2 linked regions of the Homo sapiens genome follow. The protein of the gene in region 1 purifies or fractionates together with the protein of each later gene. This does not show direct contact. Each region holds a gene or a part of one and is shown in the gene's direction. Other genes may lie near its edges.

The links. The genes of interacting proteins can lie anywhere in the genome.
Region 2: the proteins of THADA (region 1) and UXS1 purify together in Homo sapiens (co-immunoprecipitation; one large-scale study listed by IntAct). This does not show direct contact.

Annotation. Positions count from the first base shown.
Region 1 is NC_000002.12:43,292,039-43,295,538, reverse strand, and holds part of THADA (tRNA (32-2'-O)-methyltransferase regulator THADA), read left to right. Parts: intron 1-2,325; coding exon 2,326-2,705; intron 2,706-3,316; coding exon 3,317-3,435; intron 3,436-3,500. UniProt on the Homo sapiens protein: Together with methyltransferase FTSJ1, methylates the 2'-O-ribose of nucleotides at position 32 of the anticodon loop of substrate tRNAs.
Region 2 is NC_000002.12:106,184,302-106,187,801, reverse strand, and holds part of UXS1 (UDP-glucuronic acid decarboxylase 1), read left to right. Parts: intron 1-3,500. UniProt on the Homo sapiens protein: Catalyzes the NAD-dependent decarboxylation of UDP-glucuronic acid to UDP-xylose. Necessary for the biosynthesis of the core tetrasaccharide in glycosaminoglycan biosynthesis.

The DNA of each region.
Region 1 (3,500 bases):
GGATTTATCAGAGAATGCTATGAATATAATATCTAAATTTTGGCAAGGCATTTGGTGAAGTCTGTCATAAGTTCTTGTAGATAAAACTTCATGGACAGAATGATACAATTAAGAGGATTCATAAGTGGGGGATGACTCAAACCGAAGAGGGCTAGTTAATGAATTAGTGAGAGCCTGGAAGAGCGTTTGAGGCAAGGGCCAGCAGGGAGCCTGCTCACCAAAGGCCTCCACCCTCCAGCTTGCCCACATTTTTAGTAATTATTTGATTTTGGGCATTTAGGCATTCCTGTGAAATTGAAGTTTGCCAACTACTTTGTATGCGTTTTTGAGATAGGGTCTCACTTTGTCGCCCAGGCTGGAATGCAGTGTCAGCATCCTGGCTCACTGCATCCTCAACCTCCTGGGCTCAAGTGATCCCCCACCCAGCTGACTTTTTATTTTTTGTAGAAATAGATTTTCACAGTGTTGTCCAGGCTGGTCTCAAACTCCTGGGCTCAAGCAGTCCTCCCACCTTGGGCTCCCAAAATGTTGGGATTACAGGCATGAGCCACCACGCCCAGCTGGTTTACCCAATTTCTATTAGATGATGAACATGTGTGAAGAACTGGGTGCTGGGAGGTACCCGAGACTCCTACCCTAGTCCGCACCCTCATTCCCTAGTCCTGCCAGTTTTATCCCTTCAGTGTTTTTTTTTCTTTCTTTTTTGCCTTTTTAAATGATCACCTTGGCTTCAGACCTTCAGCGTTTCTTAAACCCACCTTCTCCTGATTCCTTCTGAACTTAAGGCCCTCGTCATTTATTTCTCTCCTGGACTACGGTGCAGTAGTGTTGTAACTGGTCTCCCTGCCTCTAATATTGCCTCCTCAACGATAAGAGCACTTCAGTGAAAATGGGCCCCTGACCTTACTGCTTAAAATAACCCCCCAGTGGCATTCCGTTGCATACAGAACTAGCTGCTTCACATTGTCTAGGAGGCTTTCTGTACTCTAGCCACATTTCTTCCCTAGCCTCATCTCCTGCCCTTTCCCACCTCAAATTTTATGCTCCAGTGTTATGGGATGGCCTGTAGTTCCCCACATGGTCCGTTCTGTTTCATGCCTTTGTTGAGCCTTTGCTCAGCTGGTTCCCCTGCCTTTGGTGGTGCTAACACATTGTCACCTGTCTTCCTCTTTGAGGCCTAGGTTATCATTTGTACCACTATATTGGAATTATGTGTTCATGCATTTCTCTTTCTCAAACTAGACTGACTATAAACTCCTTAAGGGCAGTGATCTTATTTAGCTCCTAGCACATAGTAAGCAGGCAATAAGTTTTTGGTTTTTTTATTTTTTTAATCAGAACTGAGAATATGAAAAGATCTCGGCAAATGAAAGGTAGACCATAAAACTTAACAGGAGGATAAAATTTAACAGGGATATACTTGGGCTTAAAATAAACAAAGAAAACACATCTTGGCTTAAGTACTGAGTACAAAGTGGGAGAAAGATGACTCACCACCATCAGTAGACCACGTCAAAAAAGAAGGGCTGTGGTTTCAGTTGACTTTGTGCTCCATATGAGTCAACAGTGTGATGCAACTCCAGTTCAGAACAGAGAAAGTAATAGTCCTGCGGGTCAAACCATGCAGGAGATTTGTGATCCAGCCTATTGGCCATCCTTTAAGAGAGGGTGAGGCATGTCCACAGGAAAGCAGCTAGAATAATGAGAGACAGTGACCCCATCATTTGAGGAAGGAAGTAGGAATGTTTCATCTGGAGAAGACAGAGGGGACACAAGAATTGTAATCAAATGTCTAAAGAGCTGTCATTGGGAGCCTCAAAATGTAGCATTAGGCCAGTGAGTAGAAACACAAAAAGAACTTTTTGACAATTAGATCTACTAACAATGGAATAAGCTGTCTCATGAGCTCCAGGGTACTGTAGGGTTCAACCAAGAGCTTCTGGGAAAGGGTGTTACAGAGGGGAGCTTCACCCCTGAAGGAAGTTTATACTAGATGTCCTCTTCTCATGGTCAGCTTTGAGGCTCGGTGATAAGAGGTCACTGAGTTCGTATTTATTGAATGTTGAGGAGGGGTGCCAGGAACGCATTTTCTAATAGTAATGCCTTTGTGCCCCTGTTGGAAAAATTATACATTACCTAAATGGAAATTGTTGTGGACTAGAAGTCTGAACCTTAGAGGGCCACTCACTTATGACAGTGTTTGAAATCTGCTTATGGGAGACATCTGATGGCCTCACGCAGTGGATTCAGTCTTCATTCTTTCATGTCCTTTTGTGGAAATTTAAAGTGATTATCTCTTTCCCTTTTGCTTTTTTTGCTTCTTAGTTCTGGAGAGTCTTGGCTTCTGGGAGGAAGTCAGAGGGATTATCTCAGGATCAGAGCTGATAACGGGATTCCCTTGGGCCTTCAAGGTGCCAGGCCTGCCCCAGTACCTCCAGAGCCTCACCAGACTAGCCATTGCTGCAGTGTGGGCCGCGGCAGCCAAGAGTGGAGAGCGGGAGACGAATGTCCCCATCTCTTTCTCTCAGCTGTTAGAATCTGCCTTCCCTGAAGTGCGCTCACTAACACTGGAAGCCCTCTTGGAAAAGTTCTTAGCAGCAGCCTCTGGACTTGGAGAGAAGGGCGTGCCACCCTTGCTGTGCAACATGGGAGAGAAGTTCTTATTGTTGGCCATGAAGGAAAATCACCCAGAATGCTTCTGCAAGGTAAAGTCTCCAACGTACTGACTGGCCCTTTACACTCCCCACATTCTTTTGTGAGCCACTGGAATGGTAGGATCATGAAGGCAAGATTGGGTTTAGGCTCTCCAGGGGCAATAGGAAGTAGATTCGGCAGCCAGTGGATAAGGACTCTCTTTTTATGGTGGTTGGCATGGCGTCATACCTGGTAGGGCACCAAGAAAAGCTTTTGATGATAGGAGTATTGATGGCAGAGATTAACCAAAGACAGAGCAAACCACTTTGGGATGTTTAGGAAACAGATCATTAAAAATTCACTGTAGAGTGTGTCAGAGGTAGTCTTTGCTGACATGGCTATTTCAGGGCAGTTGGCCACCTGGGAAGCATAATCAAAAGGAAAGGGCACTGGCCTAAAATCAGGGCATCTGGCTCCCATCCCAAGTCACTAGAGGCCCTCTGGTTAGTCATTGCATCACTCTGCCTCAGTCTCCCAAAGGTATTATGGGGGAAATAAGAAGTCAGTGGGAGCCTTTTGAAAGGTAGACCTCTTGTTGATACAATTGATTATCATGTAACATCTAGAGACATCTCCCTGAGTATTTATTTCTCTTTTTTGTGTGCGGATTTGGCTTACACAGATACTGAAAATTCTCCACTGCATGGACCCTGGTGAGTGGCTTCCCCAGACGGAGCACTGTGTCCATCTGACCCCAAAGGAGTTCTTGATCTGGACGATGGATATTGCTTCCAATGAAAGGTTTGCCCCCAAAACCTCCTGTGCAACCTTGGTAAGATGTATGGTCCCATCAGTCATTATGTAAT
Region 2 (3,500 bases), about 63 Mb from region 1:
CCATTGCACTCCAGCCTGGGCAACAAAAGCGAAACTCCATCTCAAAAAAAAAAAAAAAAGGAAATTACAGTTGTGACATTGTGACATCTAGTAACATTTATGTAATTTTTGGTGTATTGTGGATTTTGTTGTAGTGACATTTTAGTTGTGGTACCTTTCTTTCCTGTCAGTGTTACTTAACAAGAAAAGAGATAAAACCTGAAAACCATATGAAAGAGTGTTTTATGTGTCTTAGTTTTGTGTTTATGGTAATAGACTTCAAACTTCCCTGAGGTTGGGACTTTGGTTACGGTACAGTTTTGCCCTTAATATAATCAGCTCCCACATGATCGGCAATTGCCCTCATAAATTCATTCGGGACACAATTGTTAGCCTCTGCCTTGGAGGATGTGCAGCAAGTTAGATATCACTGTGACGCCAGAGGACCCTGGGGGACAGCAGACAGCTAAAATCCAACAACCTAGTACCGGTGGCATTCCCAGGCTGACCCGAGCGTGAGATCAGCTTGGGCTTGTCAAATGCAGGTTCCTAGGATCCTCCTAGGCCTGTAGGAGCCTGAGGGTTGGAGGCACAAGCTGGAAATTGTGAATTTTCAACATTTTCAAAATTTCCTTTCAGATTTTCTATCTTTTCTACTAAAAGAATATTTTAGTGAACACCCAAATACTCTCTGCCCAGATTCACCAGATGCCTACATTTTTTTCCACATTTTTCTTTTTCTTACTTTTTTTGTATATATTTTATATATACTTTTTTTGTTGAAATATTTGAAAGGTGCAGACGTAACAGTACTTCACCTTCAAGTACTTTACATATATCTCCTAAGAATAAAGGTATTCTTCTATATAATCTCATTACCATTATCACTCCCTAAAAATTAACAAAATAATATCTAAGATATAGTCTATATTTAAATTTCCCCCCATTGTACCATAAATGACTGTGATAGCCTTTCTGAGATTTTTTTTTTGCTTCTGTTTTTTTGAGACAGGGTTTCAATCTGTTGTCCATGCTGGAATGCAGTGGCATGATCTTAGTTCACTGCAGCCTCAAAATCCTGGACTCAGGTGATCCTCCTGCCTCAGGCTCCTGAGTAGCTGGGACTACAGGTGTGTGCCACCACAGCCAGCTAATTAAAAAATTTTTTTTTGTTTAGTTTAAAATCTAGGACCCAGTCAAGATTTACATGTTGCATTTGGTTTTATGCCTCTAAATTTCTGGAGCCATAGTAGCCTGATTTTTTTTTGTTTGTTTGATTGTTTCTCATAACATTTACCTATATATGTGTGTGTGTGTATATACATATTTACGTATATTCATGTATATGTGTGTGTGTGTGTGTGTATATATATATATATAAAAGCCCAGAGCAGTTTTCCTATAAATGTCCCACATTCTGGATTTGTCTGATTGTTTCCTTATGATTAAGTTCAGTTAAACATTTTTATAACAATGCTTGCTAATTGGTGTCGTTGGGAACATGTAGTGTCTGGGCTGGTCCCACTTGACACTGTTCAGTGTGACCCCTGGAAGGAATGGCCTCTATGCTGCTTCATTTTGAAGGTACATTTTTGCAGTATGCAATCTGTGGAGTGATTCTTGCCACCTGTGCGAATATCTTGTTCTCCAGCCAGTGCATTTCATGTCCATTGACGATCCTTGCCTGGACCGATTTTTCTGTTGGGGATTGCAGTTAGTGATTTTCTAATTTTGTAAATCTTTTGATAGTTATTAACTGGTGGTGTTTTGAAAAGAACTTTCCCTCCCTTTTTCTTCTCTCACTGTATTAGTTTCCCGTGGCTGCTGTAACAAATTACTCCAAATTAGGTGCCTTTGAAACAAGAGATATTTATTATTTCTAAATCTGGTGGCCAGAAGTCTGAAACCAAGGTGTTGGCAGGGCTGAGCTCCCTCGGAATGCTCCTCTGTGGCTCCAGGGTTTCTTGTCTTTTGCCTGCACTGCTCCAGCCTCTGCGGTGACATGGCCTCCTCCTTTTCTGTCTGCTAAATCTCTCCTGGGTGTTTCTTATAAGAACATTTGTCACTAGATTTAGAGCCCAACTGGATAATCCGGGATGATCTTTTTGTCTTGAGATCTTTAATTACAGCTAAAAAGACCTTTTTTCCAAGTAAGATAACAATCACAAATTCTAGGAATTGGAATGTGGACATATTTTAGGGGGCACCGTTAAACTCATGGTGATCTTTCTTTAATCACTGTGGACCCGTAGCTTCTTTTAGTCTTTGAGCACTTCCTTAATGTCTAGATGTTTCAGGCTCATTTTCTTTTTCTACCCCAAACCTGGAATCAGCCTTCTCTCCAAGGAGCCAGAATTGAATGGAATCATTGGCCACTTGCTTGGTGTCTAGAGAGTGGGAGAATTGGTTGGTAGTATGGGAAAAGCACACACACGTGGTATCAGAAGTGTTCTGTAGGTAGAAACAGGGTTTAAGACTTGGGCATCTTTATTTTCAACAATTTTCCCATTTTCCACCATAGTTCCTAAGAAAATGGACAAGGTAAAGTAGTCAAGGTAAAGTGCTGAGTACCATGAGAGAAATGAGATCTGGGACTTGGAGAGAATGGGATGCCCTTAAGACCTGGGGCATTGAGTTGGCATTTAGCAGAAGGATACAATTTGGGCAGTGGAGTTGAAGGTGAAAGTGATGGAATGAGCAGAGGCTGGAGTGACACAATGCCAGGAGCAGGAGTCTTTGTGGCCCATAAAGGCAGAATGTGGAAGTCTGACCTGACATAAACTTGATTTAATGACATGAGTAAGCCCTCCATAAGAATTTGTGCAGCATGAGAGAGATTTTGATGAACATGCCTGAAGTGTTCAGACATTAGGGCAGGGCAAAGTATAATCAGTTTTGCATTTTGGGGTTGGCCCGTGTGGCCTGAAATGTGCTTTGTGGTGTGCATGTCTCCTGAGCTGCCTACCTTTTGTAGATATGTGACTGGATTCTAGTCCTGGTATATGATATGTATGGTACTTCTGTACAGGCCAGTGCTGTGATCTGAATGTTTGTGTCCCCTGGAATTCACATGTTGGAACCTAATCCTTGAAGTGATGGCATTAAGAGGTGGGGTATTTGGGAGGTGATTAGGTCAGGAGGCAGAGCCCTCATGCATGGGATAGTGTCTTTGTAACAGAGGCCCAAGGGAGTTCATTCCTCCCTTCCACCATGTGAGGATACAGCAAGAAGGCACCGTCTGTGAATAGGAAGTGAGCCCTCACCGCCAGTGTCTTGATCTTGCACTTCCCAACCTTCATAACTGTGAGAAACAAATTCCTGTTTATTAGCCACCCACTGTGTAGTATATTTGTGATAGCAGCCTGAACATGGACTAAGACAGCTGAGAAGTCAAGAACATGTCTGATGTGAAGTTGGAGAGCTTTCACAAATAGATATGTTGAATAGGTGAGGCCAGTTACCAGATTCTTCATGTGTACTGAACCCACATTAATGTCTACTGCAAATTTCTTGTCTTGCTT